2 separate regions of the Homo sapiens genome follow, and region 2 is linked to region 1. The links come from fine-mapping of genetic effects on gene expression. A gene starts in region 1. The other region holds a variant in brackets. All regions are shown on one strand. Distances are between the middles of the regions. Region 1 holds the start of BOP1 (BOP1 ribosomal biogenesis factor). Region 2 holds the start of SCX (scleraxis bHLH transcription factor).

Region 1 (10,082 bases):
ATTCTACAAGGTGGCCCCACAGCCCAGGCCACAAGCCTCTTGTTCCAGCCTCCTGCCAAGTCAAAGCTGTATCTGCTGACCGGTGATCTGGGCTCCTGGGCTCGGCTGGCCGGCTGTTCCCTCTCCGGGTCCCGGGAGTATAGGCTTTAGGAGCAAAGGGAGCGCGTGTGTGAGTAGCTGTGGCCCACGTGTGGGGAGCAGGGACCACCGGAGTCAGGGCATGGAAGCAGTGAGGCAGGCAGGAAGCGCGAGCAGGTGCAGACAAAGTGGCTCACTTTGTGGCCCCGTTCCCTGGTCTGGTTCTGTCCACATCTGAGCCACCCGCACCTTTCTCATAAACACTCTTCTTGTTTCCGCTCTGGAGGAGCTTCCAGCGTGTTCTCGCCACACAAGGACCAAGAGCAGCACAATCGCCCTCATCTCTCATCACATCTCGTCACTGGCTGCCGTGCACAAGTGTGGTGGCTACTGCTGCTCACCATGGCCCACAGGGTCACAGGGAGGAGGCTGAGGCAGCAGCAGCCCTTGCTGCCAGGTGCCTTGAGACATTTGGGACCACCTCCTTTCCTTAGACAGCCTCCCCTCCACCTGCCAGACCTTGAGGAGACCCTGGAGCCAACAGCCCTCAATATACCCGATGGGAGCTGCTTGCTTCCTCTGGGAAGGCACTGTGAGCCCCACCGACCCCTCTCCAGCTCGCCCTGCACACAGGCTGACTCCTCCAAAACTGAGAGACTTTCAGGGCCAGGCTGTCCATCCCTGGTCCCTCAATAAAGGACTGAGCAAACACTAGCCTGTGGAGTTGGGTGGGCATGGGGCACCGGAGGCATCTGCCTCCCCCCAGGAGGCCACTGCAGCTCAGCCCTTCTGTGCCCTGGGCCCCTCCTCACCGCACCCCCCCCACCACACCATCCGGGGCAGAGGAAACACAGGAGGCTACAGCACAGAGCCTTTTTAATTTTTTCTGTGCTATGCACAGAAGCTGTATGAGGACAGATGTGTGCCTTCTTTTTTTTTTTTTTTGAGATGGAGTCCCGCTCTGTCACCCAGGCTGGAGTGCAATGGCGCGATCTCAGCTCACTGCAAGCCCCGCCTCCTGGGTTCACGCCGTTCTCCTGCCTCAGCCTCGCAAGTAGCTGGGACTACAGGCACCCACCACCACGTCCAGCTAGTTTTTTGTATTTTTTAATATAGACGGGGTTTCACCATGTTAGCCAGGATGGTCTCAATCTCCTGACCTCCTGATCTCGTGATCCGCCCACCTCAGCCTCCCAAAGTGCTGGGATTACAGGCGTGAGCCACCACGACCAGCCCCAGCTGTGTGCCTTCTTATGGCCACACCAGGAGGCACTATGGTCCGGGCACACATCAGGCCCTCCAGACCCTGCAGCACTTCTCACAGCTGCTGCTGTGGGGCCTCCAGCATCTTGGGCCAAATACCAGATCTTCCAGGGTGGGGCCAGTGGGCCTGCTGGGTCTTGGCGGCTCTCAGAACCAGGGAAGCAGGGGTGGCCCTGCCTGCCGTGGGAGCTCCGGACACGATCTGTGACCAGGGTCTGAGTGACTGAGCGTGGCCAGGTCGGCTCTGCTTCTGCAACTCCTCGTGTGCTTATGAGTGGACGCCCTGCCCTGCCTTACTTCAGGGACCCCTCAGGCCCTGCCCCCTGCCTCACTGCAGGGACCACTCTGCTCCCAATTGTCCACCCAGAGACCCTCCACAGCGGCCACCTGACCACTGGCTTTCAATGGAACTCTCTCCCGCGATAGGCCGAGGGCCTTGGTGACCTCCAGCTCACTCAGTCTCAGGGAGCCCCAGGGTTTCAGCACATCCTTCTAGAGTCTTTCCAGCTGCACCCATGAGGCTGGGGCCAGGTGAAGACAGAGAAGCATCCAGGAGCCCACATCTAAGGAGGCCCCCACTCCCAGCGCCATCCGAATGCAGGTAGGTCTTAAAAAGGAATGCCTCAGGGCCAGGCGCGGTGGCTCAAGCCTGTAATCCCAGCACTTCGGGAGGCTGAGATGGGAGGATGGCTTGAGCCCGTGAGTTCCAGACTAGCTTGGGCAATACGGCGAGACCCTGTCTCTACTAAAACCTTAAAAAGAAAAAAAAAAAAAAGCCAGGTCTGGTGGTGCAAGCCTGTAGTCCCAGTGACTCAGCTGAGGTGACTGGATCACTTGAGCCTGGGAGGCAGAGGCTGCAGCGAGCTGCAATCATAGCCCTGCACTCCAGCCTGGGCAACAGAGCGAGACCTTATCTAAAAAACAAAAAGTGCTTCCTTAAATTTTGCACCCAGGTGCCCCCTCTGGCCTCACCCTGATCCTGAGGCCTCCGTCTACCTGGGTTCGTTCTAACCTGCGTGACCATCATTCTAGCATTTGTCTGGCACAGGTCATGTGGCTGTGCCTTGTTCTCAGGCTCCTCAGCCAGCTGGGTGGCTCCTGGGGCTGTAATCTCACCATCTCAGATGTCGAGATTACTTTTCATACTTCCTTATCTTGTTAATAAAGATGGGACAAAATCATAGCTTGTAAAAAACTGGGATGATGGTGAACCCAGTTCTGAGGCTTCACTTTCTGCTTTTGTTTGGTTCTCCATGCTGTCAAATTCTCTGAAGAGGCTGTTGCCCTCCTGAGTCAGCTGCAGCCCAGCAAGGCCCTAGAAGAGCCTCTGCTGGTGGACAGAGGAGCTGCTGCATGCAGACGAGGAAGCTGGGCTGAGGGCCGGCACCAGGGCACGGGGCAGGGAGGCTGCGGGTCCCGGGTCTCATGGGTCTCAGTTCTATGGAGGTGCCTGTCAGTCCAGGTATTCAGTCCCCCAACCCCGTCTTTGGGTCTCAGTGGTACTGGATCCAGGTGTACCTTTGGGAGAAGCTGTTGAGAAGCTGGCTGAGGGAGGACCACCCACGTGCACGCCCATGCTCTTATGTGGATCCCCGGGATCATAACCTTGTGGCTGACACATTTCCTCTCCAAGGCTGTGCTGTCCTCCACGACTTGCTGGGTCCCCTCAAGGCCCTTGCCTGTGTGGGTGGGGTGCTCATGGGAATGAGGGTCTTGGGAGGGGGGGGTGGGAAATCAAACAACACAGGGATGGGGTAGCTGCCACAGTCCCCACCAATGGGGTCTCCTGGGCAGTGACCCGGCATTCTGCCTCCAGTGGCTGCAGTGGGAGTCCTGATCTCAGGCCAGGGAGGGGACGTGCAATGGTGGTCCAGACCTGGTCCCATTCCTGGCCAGGCTCAGTAAAGTTACTGGCCAGTTTCTGGGCCTCGGTCTCCCCCAGGTTATTCAGCCTTGAGAGTTAGTCACCATGCCTGTGATTCTGCCTCATCTTCTTGTGTCAAATAGGGAGGGTTTTTCTTGGCAGAATGGTGGTAAGACTCTGAGCCAGAAGGAGACTCTCCCAGAGAAGGCAGCAGAGAGCAAGAGCACCAGGGCCTTCTCAAGGCCTCCGAGAGCCAGCTGGGCCTGGGCAGTAGATTTGTGGGAGGGTGCCCTGTTGGGACTCTGCTGACAGGGAGTCCTCAGGGCTTGTGTGAGTGCTCTCAAAGTCACAGGATGGGATGATCACCTCCTTTCTCCAGGCCAGGCAGCCAGCGCCGGAAAGCTCTGCAGCCCCCTGCGCGGCCTGGAGAAGGGCTTCCTTCCAGTTTTAAGTCAGTGTTTCTGTCTCATTGCCATGCTCGCCCCCAGTGCTACGTCCTGCACCAACCATTGCCACTTCATACTGACCAGGTGGAACCAAACACTCACATTCCAGTTGGCTCCCCATCCCTCCCCAGGGAGAACAGATCCACAGGTGGTGCACCTGTGAGTGGAGTGGAGGCTGGCCACGGGCCTCATCACACCTGCCTTCCTTGCTCAAAAGCCCTGCCCAGAACATGCCTCGGTCCCAAAAAAGGGTACACTGGGCCCTAACCCACATGCCTCATAATCTTTAAGCAGAAACAGCAAGCAGATTACGGGACAGGACAGATCACGCTAGTAGGATTAAGCTTAGAATATCCCAGATAATCGCGGATGCCCCTCCCCCAATGGGGGAGTTATTCCCCTTAACTTCTGAGGATTAAGGGGAATAAGAAAAAGAAGAAGGGCTGGGTGCAGTGGCTCACACCAGTAATCCCAGCACTTTGGGAGGCCAAGGCGGGTGGATAACTTGAGGTCAGGAGTTCCAGACCAGCCTGTCCAATGTGGTGAAACCCCGTCTCTACTAAAAATACAACAATCAGCCGGGTGTGGCAGCACGCACCTGTAGTCCTGGCTACTCGGGAGGCTGAGGCAGAATTGCTTGAACCCGGGAGGTGGAGGTCGCAGTGAGCCGAGATCGCACCACTGCACTCCAACCTGGGTGACAGAGCAAGACTCGGTCTAAAAAAAAAAAAAAGAAAAAAGAAAAAGACGGATAAAAGAAGACAGAAACATGGGAGTATTTCCTTTGCACAAGAATCCAAGGTCTAGAATGAAGAGATGGTGAAATGAAGCCAGCCTCCAGGAAGGTGCACTGTGCCTTAATGGGACCTGGGGATGGGAAGGCCAACACAGAGGTGTCAGCGGGACAAACACAAAGTGTTTCTAACAAGAGCAAAGATTTCCAGTCTTCTCTTTATTTCCAAACACTCTGTAGGTAAAGCAGAGCCTCAGTAAACCCAAGAAGCAGAAAACCTGGCCTCCTGCCTGGGGCAGCTTCAGTTTAGACTTTTCTTCATTCCTAACAGCATAAAGAGGCTGTGCAAATGGGAGGCACTCAGCAGAGCCTGAAGAACTCTGGGGTCTTAGCTCCTGGGAGGCCACACATGCTTGGTGGCACCCTGCCGGTCACGGTGCCTCCAAAAGCTCCCAATGATCAGTGGCCTTTCTTTTTTTTCTTTTTTTTCTTAGACAGGGTCTCACTCTTTGCCAGGCTGCAGTGGCGGGATCTTGGTTCAGTGCAACCTCTGCCTCCCAGGTCCAGGGAGTCCTCCTATCTCAGCCTCCCAAGTAGCTAAGACCACAGGCAAGCACCACCACGCCCGGCAAATTTTTTGTATTTTTAGTAGAGCTGGGGTTTTGCCATATTGTCCGGGCTGGTCTCGAACTCCTGGCCTCAAGTGATCCACCCGCCTCCGCCTCCCAAAGTGCTGGGATTACAAGCAAGAGTCACCCCACTCGGCCAGTGTGGCCCTTCTTCAGGTCATCACTTGCCAGCCGCAGGCGGTGGCTCTGCCCCTCACCGGACACGACGTCACAGCCGGGATGTGAACAGCAGATTCTGATCTCCAACTCCAGACAATCACTGATTTACTTCTGCAAACCGGAGCTGTCCGGTCTTGCAGGGTCGGACCATGTAAACAAGCCTGCTGCCAGGCAACTGAAGACAGAAACACGAATAAAGATGCCCCATAAGGAATGAAAAACAAAACTCCTCTTGGGAAACCCAGATTTGGGATTCGGAAACGGGCTTGAGATCAACCTGAAGCTTCATGACGTCTTACTGTTTCCACTGCCTTTCCTGTTCCACTACAGCAACGCCCTCCACTTCACGTGCCAAGTCCTGACTTTCTCCTAATAGTTGCCGACCCAGCACCCCGTAGGCTGTCCCCTGGGGACGCCGATGTCCTCTGGGGCATAGCGTCCGCTGGCGAAGCCGGGTGCTTGCCCTAAGCGCGGACACTTCCGCAACCGCCCAACAGTTAGCAGAAGCCCAATACAAGAGACGCCCCATTCTCCCCATCCCAGGGAAACTTCGCTGGGGCAGGGGTTGAACCGAGTGTGGGTCTCGTAGCCGCTTTCCCAACTTAAGGCTCTGGGTCTGAGCAGGCTCGGGACCCGCCGCCCTTCTCTGGCGGGGGCAGGGCAGGCTCACCGCGCGTAAGCTGAAGTGCGGCAGGGCCCCTCCCCGCAGCCCTCCCGCGCCGTCCGCCGCGGCCCTGCTCCCTCCCGGTCCCCACGGGCCCCGCGCCCGCGCGCTGCCCTCACCGGGCTCCAGCAGATGAGCGCGTCGGTGTCCGGGTCGCTCACGAGGGTCCACAGCTTGGTCAGGAAGGCCGGGACGTTGCTGGGCCCCGCCGCGCCGGGGCCCACGGGCAGATCCATCTCGAGCAAGGAGGGAATAGGCGGAGGGAGCGGCCGCAAAGAGGGGCCGAGGGCCGGGCTAACGCCGTCGCCGCGCCAGCCTTCCGGGCCGCGCCGCCGCCCGCTGCGCACACACAGCCCCGGGGCCCAGCATGGCCGCCGCCATCTTGCAACGGGCGCGCTCCCGCCGCCGCCGCTGCCGCCCTCCCGCGTCACCCCCGGCGCGAGCACGCAGGCCCCGACCCCGCCCTGGTCCCCGGCCCAGCCGCGCGCCTGCGCGTGTTGGTCCCACCCCCTTCCCTCCACCCGCCAATCGGGGCCGGGCTGGGCGGGGCGCGTCCTCCTGCGCACGCGGCCCGGTCGCTGTCGGAAGCGGCTGTGCGGGTGGCGGCCGGCGCGCGGTGGGGCATGGCGGGTTCGCGGGGTGCGGGGCGCACGGCGGCGCCGAGCGTGCGGCCGGAGAAGCGGCGGTCTGAGCCCGAACTGGAGCCTGAGCCCGAGCCGGAGGTGACTGTGGCGATGCGGGGCGGCGGGGCGCGTCCCTAGAGGGCCCGGCGGGCACGTGGCCGCGCTGGGGCGGGTGGGCCCGGCTTCTGTCACCTGGGCGCCCGCGCCCAGTGAATCGGTCTTGGGCGTGGGTGCAGCTCCTCTATCGGGGGGTCTCAGGCAGAGCGGACTGCGGGGTAAAGGACGGCGTCCGGGAAGCAAAGAAACGGGGGAGCGGGGAGTGGGGACGGGGCGCCCCTTGCAGCAGCCTCTCCAGCCGTTCCATTTGTGCATCCTGCCAATAAAAGGGCTCGGCTTGCGCTCCCAGTAAATGCTTAACCTACGTATACGCTAGTTAATTGCGTTTTTATGCTCATGGGATAGACATGAGAATAAGAAAACCTGAATAGAACCCAGTGTCTGCTGCATTTGCTGTATTAGAACTCACTGTTGCTCTCTGCTAGCTCAGCCCTGTCTTGGTTGTGGGGATCATCAAATTGGGTGGTGGAGGGGATGGACAGCCAGCCCCTCACAGCCCCCTCGGCCGCGGCCGCGCTGGGTTGTTGAAACTGCCCCATTGCTTTGTGAAGCGAATTCAACTCATCCTGGCTCCCATGGGCTGAATGGCCCGCAGGCCACTCTAGGCGCCAGGTTCTGCGACTTCCACCCTTGGACTAAACGGTCCTCAGGAGCCAGTTGTTTGCGCCCAGGCCACGGATGCCATTTCCACTAGTTATTGTGATTGTGTAGCCGACTGAATACCAAGACACATCATGACTCTGTGTGAGAGAGGCATTGTGTGAACACTCGGTATGCAATAGCTAATACATGCAGGTCGTACCTTAAGTGAGACTTGTAAACTATTAGGAAAACAGTAAAATCTAGAATTCTGCATTCAACTGCTTCCTTTTTCTTTTCTTTTCCTTTTCTTTCTTTTTTCTTTTTTTTTTTTTTGAGACAGAGCCTGGCTCTGTTGCCCAGGCTAGAGTGCAGTGGTGCAGTCTTGGCTCACTGCAGCTTCCACCTCCTGGCTAACTCAGCCTCCTGAGTAGCTGGGATTAGAGGTGCCCGCCACCACCAGCTAATTTTTGTATTTTTAGTAGAGATGGTTTCACCATGTTGGCCAGGCTGGTCTTGAACTCCTGACCTCAGGTGATCCACCCGCCTCAGCCTCCCAAAGTGTTGGGATTACAGGAGTGAGCCACTGTGCCTGGCCTTCAACTGCTTCCTAAGAGTCTAAGTTCTTGTTCCACCCTTTAAGGCCAGTGAAGGACCCGAACACTGTGTGTGCCGGTGTCACGCAGCCAGCAGGGCTCTGCTCAGAGGCAGCTGTGGTCCTGCTCAGAGAGAGGAGTGGGTGGGTTGGTGCGTGGTTGCGGTTAGAGTCTCTATCATTCCTGTGACTCTTCAGCCAATCCTTTCAATTTACTGATCAATCGTTGGTCCCAATCTGGTTAAATGAGGAGGCGTCTGCTTCAGGTGGTAAAAGCCCTTTGGGGACCCATTTCTCTTCCAGCCCCCAGCCCCTTTTCTAGTGACCTCTTGGCTCTGGGGCCTTGGATGCCAGGGTGAGGTGTGGAGAGGGCTCAGGCAGGCTGTCTGAGGGACCCAGTGGAGTCCAGCCCAGCCTGACCCCACAGGGCCTCCGGAGTGTCAGTGGGTGGTAGAGAGCAGTGTTAGTTTTGCGATGAGAGCTGAGCTCCAAGAGGAGGAGGTTGTCCTTGAAAAGCCCCTTCCCTGTGAGGTGCTAGGAATTAAAATGTCGATGGCAAAGGCAAGAGGCTGTCTTGTCAGTGGAGGTAGAAGATGAGGAAGGCTCAGGTTGGGTGGATGCTTTTGGTGGAAGTTTGTGACTGGAGGGGTGTGGTCCTGGAGGCCACATGGAGCTGCTGGTGGGTGGCTGGAGGGGCGAGAGGCAGCTCTCCCTGCAGTGTTCAGTGCCCCATGCCTGGAGGGGCAGTTGTCACCAACCCAGTGTTTCCTTGCAGCCCCCCCTCCTCTGCACCTCTCCTCTCAGCCACAGCACCGGCAGCGATTCTGGCGTCTCCGACAGCGAGGAAAGTGTGTTCTCAGGCCTGGAAGATTCCGGCAGTGACAGCAGTGAGGATGATGACGAAGGCGACGAGGAGGGAGAGGACGGAGCCCTTGATGACGAGGGCCACAGTGGGATTAAAAAGACCACTGAGGAGCAGGTGCAGGTGGGTGAGCGAGGAGCCCCCTCGAGGGCTGTCCCCCATGTGCAGGTGGCCTTGGGCTTTCTGAGACTGCCACTGTACTGCCTTCTCCACCGTCCCTCAGAACCCCAAGGCCGGCGTCCCTCCTTCACTGCACCTGGGGCACGCTTGGGCTCTAGGACGCTGGTTTCCATCCCCAGTTGCGTGCCGTTCCCAGGAACTCTGAAAATCCACATGCCTAGGCCCTTCCCCGTCAGACGATGCTCGGGCAACCCTCCTGGCAACAGGTTGGGTTTCCTTGAGGTGGGGATTTTACTGCTTGGAATCCAGTGGCAGGACCCAGCTGAGGAGGGAGCTGAGCAGCATGGCAGGGCTCAAGCAGGCGGCATGGGGGCCCCAACGGAACCCAGCTGGGCCTGACCCCACAGGGCTTCAGGGGCCTGAGCAGCCGACGGGTAGAGGGTTTAACATTGTACCTGTTGCAGCGATGGTGGGGGAGGATGCACCCTACTCTTATTGAGAACAACAGGAGAAAAGCATAATTTAACTAAAACACAGCATTTGTTATTTTTTTTTATTTTTTATTTTTTTGAGACAGAGTCTCACTCTGTCGCCCAGGCTGGAGTGCAGTGGTGTGATCTTGGCTCACTGCAACCTCCATCCCCTGGGTTCAAGTAATTCTCCTGCCTCAGCCTCTCTAGTAGCTGGGATTACAGGTACATGCCATCACGCCCGGCTAATTTTTGTACTTTTAGTAGAGACAGGGTTTTGCCGTGTTGGCCAGGCTGGTCTCGATTTCCTGACCTCAGGTGAGCCACCACGCCCGGCCTATTTTTTTTTTTTTTTTCTAAGACAGAGTCTTGCTCTGTTGCCCAGGCTGGAGTGCAGTGGGGCGATCTTGGCTCACTGCATCTTCCACCTCCTGGGTTCAAACAATTCTCCTGTCTCAGCCTCCTGAGTAGCTGGGATTACAGGTGCCCACTACCAGGCTCGGCTAATTTTTTTTTGTATGTTTAGTAGTGACGGGGTTTCACCATGTTGGCCAGGCTGGTCTCGAACTCCTGACCTCAAGTGATCTGCCTGCCTTGGCCTCCCAAAGTGCTGGGATTACAGGTGTGAGCCACCGCGCCCAGCCCAGCATTTGTTACTCTAAACATTCTGGAAATCGTTTGTAAGGATTTACTCTCCCAGTAGTTTCGGTGTTCTGGAAGTTACGGCCTTGGCAGAGGTCCCCGTGATAGAAGCCAAGGAACCATGGCTTGTTCATTGTGTGCTAGCTGTGTTGGGTTGGCTTGTTTGCTGGGAAGAAAAGATTTAAAATCACACTTAATTCAGGCTTTAATTATACCACTAACATACACAGAGAAAAAA
Region 2 (10,082 bases), 28 kb after region 1:
CTAGGCCCAGGTCTGGAAATGGGAGGCCTGGAGGTGAGGGGTAGGTGGGCTATGGACCCTCCCTACAGAACTACACCCAGTGCCCAGTGGAGGGAGGGCTGGCGTGGGCGCCGTGGGCCTTAGGGTGCTATGCAGAGTGCCCGGCCTGGCCATGCTCCTGGGTCCACCCTGCTCCTCACTCACCAGCGCCTTGGTGCCTGGGAGGGTGGCGGGGCGGGGGTGTGAGGAAAGCTCCCAAGAAGGGAAGGGGCTGCGTCAGCCCCTAGCTGCATGTCCGTGTCCCCCGGGCCCTGGCTTCCCGGCGGGCGGAGGCTTCTGCAGTGACTGAGCTTGTCCTCTCCTCCCCTCCCTCTGGCCAGCTGTGGGCTCCTGCAGGATTAGGGAGAGGAAATTTGGGGTTGGGTTTCTCTCTGAACGAAACCTGCCGTTGTGACTTTTTATCCTGTTATATTTCTATCAGATTGGACTCAGCCCCCCTCTAGCCCTTAATGGCTCTGGCTTTGAGAATTTCCTCCAAAATTACACCACTGCTTCCTGCTCCGCCATTCCCTGGAGCCTGTCTTTGCAGAGGAGGGGCAGTCCTGGGCCAGCCCTGCACCGATGCCCACGTGGGCCACAGCACCTGGTCTCCCCCCGAGGGTGCGTCCCTGCCTGTGCTAGCGGGGAACTGGGGCCGGCCGCCGCCCTGACGCCCGCACCTGGCACCATCAGCCATTGTCCACCCAGCCGGAAGTTAGGCTGTGGCCTGGCAGGGTTGGGGGGAGGTGGTCCACACAGCACCGCCCTTCTTCTCTCTGTGCCCACTGATCTCACACCACTCAATGGTAATTGTCACCTGCAGGGTTTTAATGGCCAGCCAGCTGTGCACAGAGCACTGTGGGGGCTAAACCCACCTCCTGTGGTGGGCGGGGTCTTCAGGGGGCTGGATGGGCCGTGGTGGTGGGAGGAGGATGGCCAGGGGTCCTCCTTCCCACGTGGGCAGTGCTTCCAGGGGCCAAGTGGCACTGGTGCATGAGGAGATGCCCCTCTCTCCAGTCAAGGCTCGTGGAGGCAGGACACCCACTGCCCTCGCTGGGGCTGGGAGCCCCCCCCTCCGCTGGGCAGCACAGCTCGCTCCACTCCTTGTGGCCACCTGCAGCGCCCTCCTCACCCTCAGGGCCCCCGGGTGCCCGACAGGCCCGAGTCGGGGGCACCCTTGCCCTGCTGCTGCCTCTGTCCCTGCCGCTGCCTCCCTGTCCCTGCCTTACAGCGTCCCTGCCTTGTGCCTCGCCCTCCCCATCTTCTGCCACGCAGCTCCTCCCCCACCCTCTCTCCCGGCGTGGCTCCCTTGTCCCCACCCCACAGCTTCCCGATATGAGGCTCTGTGGGTGAGCTAAGCCCATCCTCACCGCCTCAGCCCAGGGAGGGGTGGCCCTGAGCCTGGAAAGTGGGGGCTTCCCAGGGAGCCGGGGTACTTGGCCCAAGGAGGATGGGACCACCAAGGGTGGGAATGGAGGCTCAGGCTGGGGGCTGGGGGTGGATTCTGAACCTTTCATGAGGACAGTTGGCCTCCATATTTGGAAGATACTGTTTTGTTTTTAATTATACAAAATTTTCAGACTTTATATTATCATATCAAAAACACAAGATGCCATCACACAGTGGCCGGAAGAAAAGCCAGCGCAGAAAGTTCCAGTGGGCCCGGGCAGGTGCTGGGGCCAGCGCAGAGTCCCGCTGCCGGCGCCTGTCTGTACGTCCGTCTGTCCCTCGGCCCCGCTCGCAGCCAGGGCTGGCCTGGGGGCATGCTTGCGGTGGGCCTTGCCCAGCTCAGGTCCAAGGTGGGGGCTGTCTGCAGTCACCCCGGGCGTCCACCTCCCCCAGCAGCGTCTGCCTCCTGGCTGCTGCCGGCCACCTCCTAACTGCGAATCGCTGTCTTTCTGTCGCGGTCCTTGCTCTGCAGAGGGGAGGGAGGAGTGTCAGGCCCCGGCAGAGCCCAGCGCCAGTCTGCGCCTCTCTGGCCTCCCTGCTGGGTGCCATCTCAGGTGGCCAGCGCCAAGGCACCTCCTTCCCGGCTCTCCCCAGCTTCCCTCAAGCGTTTTGGGGAGGGGAGCATACTGCTGCACAGCCGAAATTGTAAAATTAAATTTCCCAGATGTTCAGGCCCCAGGAGCTCGCGCGTGCTGTCTGGAGAGGAAATGGGGATTGGGAAAAGCCGTGCCGTATTTTCTCCCTGCTCACCCTGCTTTTCCGGTGCCACCAAGCACAGCAGGAGCTGTAAATCACAGCTGGCCAGCGTCTCCTGCAGGGGCCCTCACCCCCAGCCCCCACATCTCCTGCCAGCCTCTGCCTTCGTGTCCCATGGCCCACGTCTCGGGCAGCCCTACAGGACCTGGTGTCTTGGTGTGCGGCCTAGGTGGGGGACGGACAGCAGGTGCCCAAGATGGCTTAAGCCAGTGCTGGGCCGCAGGGGCTAAGAACCCGGGGTCCTTCCTCTCTTGCCTTGCAGCCTCTTACTTTCTGAACTCAGCTGTTTTCACTCCGCCTTTCAACTTACTGAAAAGGGAAGCTTGCAGCGGCCTGGTCCAGCTCCCCAGCCTCCCCGCCCTGGGTGGGCCCCTTTGGCCATCCCTAGCTCTTACCCCTCATGCAGCTCCCTGCAGGGGACTCCACACTCCACTGGGAGCCGAGTGTCCTAGGGACGCCCTGGAGAGGAGCCCCAGGAGAAGGCCCCAGCCCCCGGCAGGCCTGTGTTACAGGTGTGCCTGCCTGTGCCCTGTTGGGGAGCCCTGCCCGTGTGGCCTCGCCTCCTCTGCCTGGCAGGTGTGGGCTGAGGGGCGCGTTGGAGGCCCCCCTCGGCGCCCCACGGCCCGTGCTCACCAACTTTCTCTGGTTGCTGAGGCAGAAGGTGCAGATCTGTTTGGGCTGGGTGTTCTCGCCGTCGCGGGCGGGAGGCGGCGGGGGCGGCGGCGGGGGGCTGCCGGCGCGCGCCGCGTGGAAGAAGGCGGGCCCGGAGTGGCAGGGCTGTCCGTCGCCGCAGGCCTCGCCCGCCAGCAGCACGTTGCCCAGGTGCGAGATGTAGCTGGAGGCCAGGCGCAGCGTCTCAATCTTGGAGAGCTTGCGGTCGGCGGGCTCGGTGGGGATCAGCGTGCGCAGCGCCGTGAAGGCCGTGTTCACGCTGTTGGTGCGGTCTCGCTCGCGCGCGTTCGCCGTGTGCCGCTGCCGGGGCTCACGGCCTGGCCGGCCCCCTGGCCCCCCGCCCCCGGCCCGCCGGCCCCCCGCCCTCCGCCGGGCGCCCTGGAGGCCGCAGCGCGCCGCGTGCACGCGACAGGGTTTCTCGTCGGAGCCCGAGCTGTCGCTGCCGCGGTCCTCGTCCTCCGACAGCGGGCTCACCTCGGGGTACAGGTAGCGGCCCGGCGGCGCCGGGCGCAGCGTGGCGAAGGACATGGGGCCGGCGGGGGCGCGGCGTCAGCTCTGTCGCGCGCTGCTCATGCCGCCTCCTGCGGCCGCCGCGGGCCTCGCGGGCCGGCCGGGGCGAGGCGCGGGGTCTCGGCTGCGCCCCGCGGTGGCAGCTGCCGGGCGTCGCGCGCACATGTGCGTCCCGGGCCGGAGCGGGGCCCCGAGCTGCGCCTTTATAGCGGCGTCCCGGCCCCTCCCCCGCGCACGCCCCGCCCCTCTCAGCCCGGAGGCTCCTCGAGCAGCGCCCGCCGCGTCCCTCGGCCTTCTGTGGCCACGCTTTGGCGGGGGTGGGGGGGGCGGGGCTGGTCTTTGGGGGCATCGTTCCGTCTCTGGGGATGCGGAGGAACTGGGAGGTCGCTTCTGGGCTGTAGTTACTCAGGGCCCCAAAACTGCAGTGCCCCCCGTCCCCGGGAGAGGGGAGGAACCCACCACCCCGTTTTCTCCCGTGGCACAACTGAGTTAACCCAGCCGCCCTGGCCCTGCTGCCTGACCGCACCCTGTCTGTCTTTGCCTCCCATGTGCGCCAGCGCCTGCCTGTGCCAGGCCGTGTGCAGGGGGCGGGCACAGGCGAGTATTTAGGGGCCTAGAGCTCAGTCTCTCCGCCTGTCTGTCCTGCACCTGCCTCTCCAGGCTTGGCACAGACTGTGCCTTCTGCTAGCTGGCCATGTCCCCTGTTCTTGTGCTGTGTGGACCTCTCACCCCGT[C/A]GGTCTCCTTGCCCCTTCCTCCTTCCCCCGTTCCTCTCCAGGGCCACCAGGCCCCTCAGGAAGCACACACATACCCCCATTATCCAATTTGGGGATGGCCCCCTATCTCCATGGGGAGGAGAGGGAAGGACCCTCAGCAGGGGGCAGGGCCCAAGGGGTCCCTCCTGCAGCAGGGGGCCCGGCAGGCTCCCAGCTGTGCTCTGTCTTGCCTGGGCCCCTCCCCGTGGCTACTGTTGCAGGAAGCAGCCTCCTGGGCAGCGGTCCCCAGGCTGGAAGGAGCGAGGGTGGCGGCTGGCAGGGGCTGCAACCAGGAATGTACGTCCAGGAACGTGGCTGTTCTGCCTGGGGAGGGGCCGAGGGCAGACGGTGGGGGGTCCCCCACAGAGAGGTCTTGGCTTCTGCCTCTCTGTGGAATGGGTCAGTTGGGGTCTTCCCCGAGTCCCCGTCTTATAGCTGCCCACTTCTGCCTAAGGCCCCTGCCAGGGGAGGGAGCCCGTGGGTGATGAGGTCATCCCTGTCTGTGGCTGCCCAGAGCCCTGGCCAAGGAATCCAGTGAGGGGGGAGCTCTGGGGTTGGCACCACTTCAGTGGAAAATGTGAAGGTGCAGCTCCGGCGCCTCCGAGGGCGGGGGTGGGGGCAGCGTGGCCGCCATGCCACGTCAGACCCCAGGGCTGGGGAACAGGCGTAGGTCAGGGCCAGTGACCTCAGGGCACTTGAGGCTGGGCCTGCACTCCCCCTGCAACCCCCTCACCTGCTCCCCTGGGCGGCCCGAAGCGGGGGTGGGCCTTGTAGGATCAGATGCCGACATGGTGGCCCCCGGCTGCAGGACATCCGGAACACGGTGGGCAACGTGCCCTTGGAGTGGTACGATGACTTCCCCCACGTGGGCTACGACCTGGATGGCAGGCGCATCTACAAGCCCCTGCGGACCCGGGATGAGCTGGACCAGTTCCTGGACAAGATGGACGATCCTGACTACTGGTGAGGGCTGGTGGGGTGGGGCCAGCAGCCGGGGTGGGCCCGAGGGGTGGGGCAGGGCTGGCGGGGTCTGACTGGCGGTCTCCAGGCGCACCGTGCAGGACCCGATGACAGGGCGGGACCTGAGACTGACGGATGAGCAGGTGGCCCTGGTGCGGCGGCTGCAGAGTGGCCAGTTTGGGGATGTGGGCTTCAACCCCTATGAGGTAGGTGGCAGGGGCTGGCCCCTGGGCGGCGGGGGTCCTGGAGGCACCAGCAGGGCCTCAGCCACTCTGGCCCACACGCCCACATCTTCTCCCCCAGCCGGCTGTCGACTTCTTCAGCGGGGACGTCATGATCCACCCGGTGACCAACCGCCCGGCCGACAAGCGCAGCTTCATCCCCTCCCTGGTGGAGAAGGAGAAGGTGGGGCACACAGCCCCTGGGGCTTGGCCTGGGCTGACCGCCCCGCACTGCCCGTCCTGACCCGGCTGTCTATGCAGGTCTCTCGCATGGTGCACGCCATCAAGATGGGCTGGATCCAGCCTCGCCGGCCCCGAGACCCCACCCCCAGCTTCTATGACCTGTGGGCCCAGGAGGACCCCAACGCCGTGCTCGGGCGCCACAAGATGCACGTACCTGCTCCCAAGCTGGCCCTGCCAGGCCACGCCGAGTCGTACAACCCACCCCCTGAATACCTGCTCAGCGAGGAGGAGGTGGGCCTGCATCCTGGGGGCCGGGACCCTGTCCCCATGCTTCCCTGTGACCCTCCCCACCCCTGTGTCTTGGTCTCCACAGCGCTTGGCGTGGGAACAGCAGGAGCCAGGCGAGAGGAAGCTGAGCTTTTTGCCACGCAAGTTCCCGAGCCTGCGGGCCGTGCCTGCCTACGGACGCTTCATCCAGGAACGCTTCGAGCGCTGCCTTGACCTGTACCTGTGCCCACGGCAGCGCAAGATGAGGGTGTGTGGGGGTGGCACACCAGGGGGGTGGCACAGGGGGCAAGGCTGACCTGGCGCTCTCCTGCCCCAGGTGAATGTAGACCCTGAGGACCTCATCCCCAAGCTGCCTCGGCCGAGGGACCTGCAGCCCTTCCCCACGTGCCAGGCCCTGGTAAGTGGAGACTAGGGGGCTGGGGTTGCACCCTCCCAGTCTGACTCCTCACTGCCGCCGCCTCCTCAGGTCTACAGGGGCCACAGTGACCTTGTCCGGTGCCTCAGTGTCTCTCCTGGGGGCCAGTGGCTGGTTTCAGGTGGGTCCGAGCTGGGGGCAGCCTTGAGCTGGGGGGCAGGTGGGATGGCCAGGTGTTGAGAGCTGTCTCTGCCGCATCCAGGCTCTGACGACGGCTCCCTGCGGCTCTGGGAGGTGGCCACTGCCCGCTGTGTGAGGACTGTTCCCGTGGGGGGCGTGGTGAAGAGTGTGGCCTGGAACCCCAGCCCCGCTGTCTGCCTGGTGGCTGCAGCCGTGTAAGTGGAGGCCCTGGGGGCTGGGGAGCCAGGGGTGGCACTGTGCTTAGGGGCCGTGTCTGGGCCTGGCTCACAGGGAGGACTCGGTGCTGCTGCTGAACCCAGCTCTGGGGGACCGGCTGGTGGCGGGCAGCACAGATCAGCTGTTGAGCGCCTTCGTCCCGCCTGAGGAGCCCCCCTTGCAGCCGGCCCGCTGGCTGGAGGCCTCAGAGGAGGAGCGCCAAGTGGGCCTGCGGCTGCGCATCTGCCACGGGAAGGTACGTGGGGCGCCTTGGGGGTGAGGCTGCAGCGGGAGGGGCCCGGCTCAGCCACTCAGCCAGCCTTGCTCTCCTGCAGCCAGTGACGCAGGTGACCTGGCACGGGCGTGGGGACTACCTGGCCGTGGTGCTGGCCACCCAAGGCCACACCCAGGTGCTGATTCACCAGCTGAGCCGTCGCCGCAGCCAGAGTCCGTTCCGCCGCAGCCACGGACAGGTGCAGCGAGTGGCCTTCCACCCTGCCCGGCCCTTCCTGTTGGTGGCGTCCCAGCGCAGCGTCCGCCTCTACCACCTGCTGCGCCAGGAGCTCACCAAGAAGCTGATGCCCAACTGCAAGTGGGTGTCCAGCCTGGCGGTGCACCCTGCAGGTGAGGGGTGGGGGCGGTGCACCCTGCAGGTGAGGGGTGGGGGGGGGGGCGGTGTACCCTGCAGGTGAGGGGTGGGGGTAGGGGCAGTGCACCCTGCAGGTGAGGGGTGTAGGTGACGGGCAGGGCAGTGCACCCTGCAGGTGAGAGCGGGAACACCTGCATCACAGCCTTTGGCCCTAGGTGACAACGTCATCTGTGGGAGCTACGATAGCAAGCTGGTGTGGTTTGACCTGGATCTTTCCACCAAGCCATACAGGATGCTGAGGTGAGGAAAGCTGGGGGTGGAGGCGGCCAGCAGAGCCCCTCCCTTCAGCCCGAGCCTGCCTTCAACCTGGTTCCCTCCCCCCAGACACCACAAGAAGGCTCTGCGGGCTGTGGCCTTCCACCCGCGGTACCCACTCTTTGCGTCAGGCTCGGACGACGGCAGTGTCATCGTCTGCCATGGCATGGTGTACAAGTGAGTGCTGACCCTGCCTGGCCCCCTCCCCAGGGCAGTGGTGTCTGGCCGTGCCCTGAGCCCTCCTCGTCCCCACAGTGACCTTCTGCAGAACCCCTTGCTGGTGCCCGTCAAGGTGCTGAAGGGACACGTGCTGACCCGAGATCTGGGAGTGCTGGACGTCATCTTCCACCCCACCCAGCCGTGGGTCTTCTCCTCGGGGGCAGACGGGACTGTCCGCCTCTTCACCTAGCTGTTCTGCCTGCCTGGGGCTGGGGTGGTCGTGCTGAAGTCAACAGAGCCTTTACCCTGTGCTGCCTGGTGCTCCCACCTTCTTGAATTGGGGTTGCCAACAAAGCCGCCCCCACCACAGCGCCGAGCCTTCCCCTCACTCAATTTTGCAAAAACAGTGGGGACAACACAGCCAGTCCAGGGCACCCTCTGGCCCATCCCCTAAGAGGCTCAGCATCGCACCCTGTCAGTCACTCGCTGGGAGCAGATGAGTTTATTGGGCACATCCCTCACTGAAGGGCTTGGGTTTGGTCCCCAGCAGTGCCTGTTCTGGGGCCAGGCCCCTCCAGTCGTGTGCCCAGGCTGTGGTCCTCAGGAGGCCCTGTCTTGGAGCTCAGGCACAGGTCTGGGTGCATACTCCTCGCTGGGGGTGCTGGCCGGAGCCTTAGGCGAGCTTCACCAGGCGGCCCAGGGCCTCAGCAGCCCTCGTCCGCACCTCGGGGGCCGGGTCCTTCAGCAGGATCTGGAGCGCTGGGGGTAGAGGAGGGGGGCTGCCTGCGGGCTGTGACCTCGGCATGCCCATGCCTGCGCGTGGGCCACGCTCTCCTGACAGCCTCTGCTGGGAGGCTCAGGAGCCAACGGAAAGATCGTTTTTCCTTTTTTAGTGTTTTTTAAGCTCTTTTGGAACAGTTAAGAAGTTTCCGTGAATTACTAGAGACGATGAGGTCACCAGTGACAGGGAAAAAGTCCTGAAATCCAGGAAAATCACTTAGTCCCTGCGGGTGCCTACAGGGTCAGCAGGGCCCAGCGGAGGGGCCCCGTGGAGGGGTGCTCACCCGCAATGAGCTGGTCCAGGTCCACCTGCGGCTGCTGCCTGGGCTCCGAGTGCAGCACCAGGAACCCTGTGAAGTGGGGGCATCAGGCGGGGCTGCCGGGCGGCGTGGGGGTGGGGCAGGGGGTGGTGCTTACCGGTGAACAGGGGTGCAGCAGCTCGGACGTTCTCCCAGCTGCTCTTGAAGTAGAACAGGCAGGTGGTCAGGAGACGGCCCAGCAGGTCTGGGAAATGGTGCATCTGGGGAGAGGCCTGGTCAGTGCCGCCTGGCCCCGCCCCACCCACCACGCCCCGCCTGGCCCCACCCCTCACCAGGTGCTTGCAGGTGGTGTTGAGGAACTCCCCGAAGTGCAGGGCTCGGCCCTCCTGCAGGTGTTTCTGGAAAGCAGCTGAGAGCTCCTCACATGCCAGATTGGGGCCACACATGCGCAGGGCAAACCTGCAGGCCTAAGGGATGCGGCACTGGGGCCAAGTCCAGTTGAGGCCACCCACCCCATCCCACTCACCCCCTGGCTACTCACGCTGGCCACGGTGGCCTGAGGGTCCTGCAGGTGCAGCAGCAGGGGCGCCAGCCCGCCCACCACCTGGTCCAGGAAGACGTCCTCACAGTCTCCGTGGCAGACCTTGTTAAGGTGCCCAAAGAGGCGGATAGATGCCGTCCGGAACTCCATCTTCTCCTGGGAAGGACATGCAGCATACGTCTCCTCACAGGCTGTGCCCCTGCAGGCCTGCCTGCCTAGCCCCCTGCCATTGATGGGTGCCCTTGCCTGACCCGGGCCAGGAAACACCCCGACGGGTGGGGGCCTTACGGGTGGGGGCTGCCAGGCCCAGCAAAGCAGCAGCCCTGCAGGTCCGCGCTCTCCACGGTCACCTAGCCGAGGTGGGAGACAGGGAGGAGGGTGGGGCTGGGGCTAAAGCTCAGAGTAAGAGGCAGGAAGGGCTGGGGCCCTCTTCCCTCCCCCTGCCCCAACCAGCCTACACTGTCGAAGAAAGGCCGGATGCGGATGGCCACGTGCAGCAGCCCTGAGCGCAGGTCCCAGGACTCCACCAGGTGCACCAGCCTCGCAAGGCCCAGCATGGCCTCCAGGGCCACTGGGCTGTGAGGGTTGTCCCCGTCGTCCAGCCCGCCAATCATGGCTGTGAGGAGCTGGGGGCCGTGGGTTCGCACCTGAGGATACCTTACACTCAGCCTGGGTCCCAGAGTCACCGTCTGCTACCCCACAAGACAGGGTGGCCTCCATGCACAGCCCCCCACCCATGCTGCCTGGGACCCAGAGGGGCTGGTGGCCACCCCACCTTGTCAGGGCAGCCGGAGGCCAGGTTGGCCAGGCCGCGGAGCACCAGCCTCCGCACGCTGGCGCATGTGTCCTTCTGGCGAGCCGCCAGGCTCTCCAGCAGC

Evidence for each region.
Region 2: its variant is fine-mapped to the expression of BOP1 in whole blood (TOPMed, PIP above 0.99).

Annotation. Positions count from the first base shown.
Region 1 is chr8:144,287,748-144,297,829 of GRCh38, reverse strand. It overlaps BOP1 (BOP1 ribosomal biogenesis factor), which reads left to right and starts at 6,392. Exons shown (of 16, transcript NM_015201.5): 1 at 6,392-6,558; 2 at 8,526-8,735. The coding sequence starts at 6,460. It overlaps HSF1 (heat shock transcription factor 1), which reads right to left and starts at 6,226. Exons shown (of 13, transcript NM_005526.4): 1 at 5,956-6,226. The coding sequence starts at 6,072. RefSeq lists enhancers at 5,429-5,488, 5,091-5,747 and silencers at 5,879-6,038, 6,149-6,648.
Region 2 is chr8:144,259,955-144,270,036 of GRCh38, reverse strand. MROH1 (maestro heat like repeat family member 1) reads right to left here. Exons shown (of 44, transcript NM_032450.3): 38 at 9,980-10,082; 39 at 9,663-9,851; 40 at 9,205-9,360; 41 at 8,996-9,130; 42 at 8,821-8,923; 43 at 8,688-8,753; 44 at 8,111-8,382. The coding sequence ends at 8,297. BOP1 (BOP1 ribosomal biogenesis factor) reads left to right here. Exons shown (of 16, transcript NM_015201.5): 4 at 4,966-5,120; 5 at 5,206-5,323; 6 at 5,421-5,522; 7 at 5,600-5,812; 8 at 5,895-6,056; 9 at 6,126-6,206; 10 at 6,276-6,345; 11 at 6,427-6,559; 12 at 6,636-6,816; 13 at 6,896-7,184; 14 at 7,365-7,449; 15 at 7,534-7,641; 16 at 7,720-7,992. The coding sequence ends at 7,873. It overlaps SCX (scleraxis bHLH transcription factor), which reads right to left and starts at 3,584. Exons shown (of 2, transcript NM_001080514.3): 1 at 2,857-3,584; 2 at 1,556-1,933. The coding sequence starts at 3,423. The coding sequence ends at 1,895. MIR7112 (microRNA 7112) reads left to right here and starts at 7,300; the gene lies at 7,300-7,364. RefSeq lists enhancers at 1,682-2,447, 2,448-3,215 and a silencer at 3,461-3,650. The variant C/A (reference allele first, on the strand shown) is at 4,140.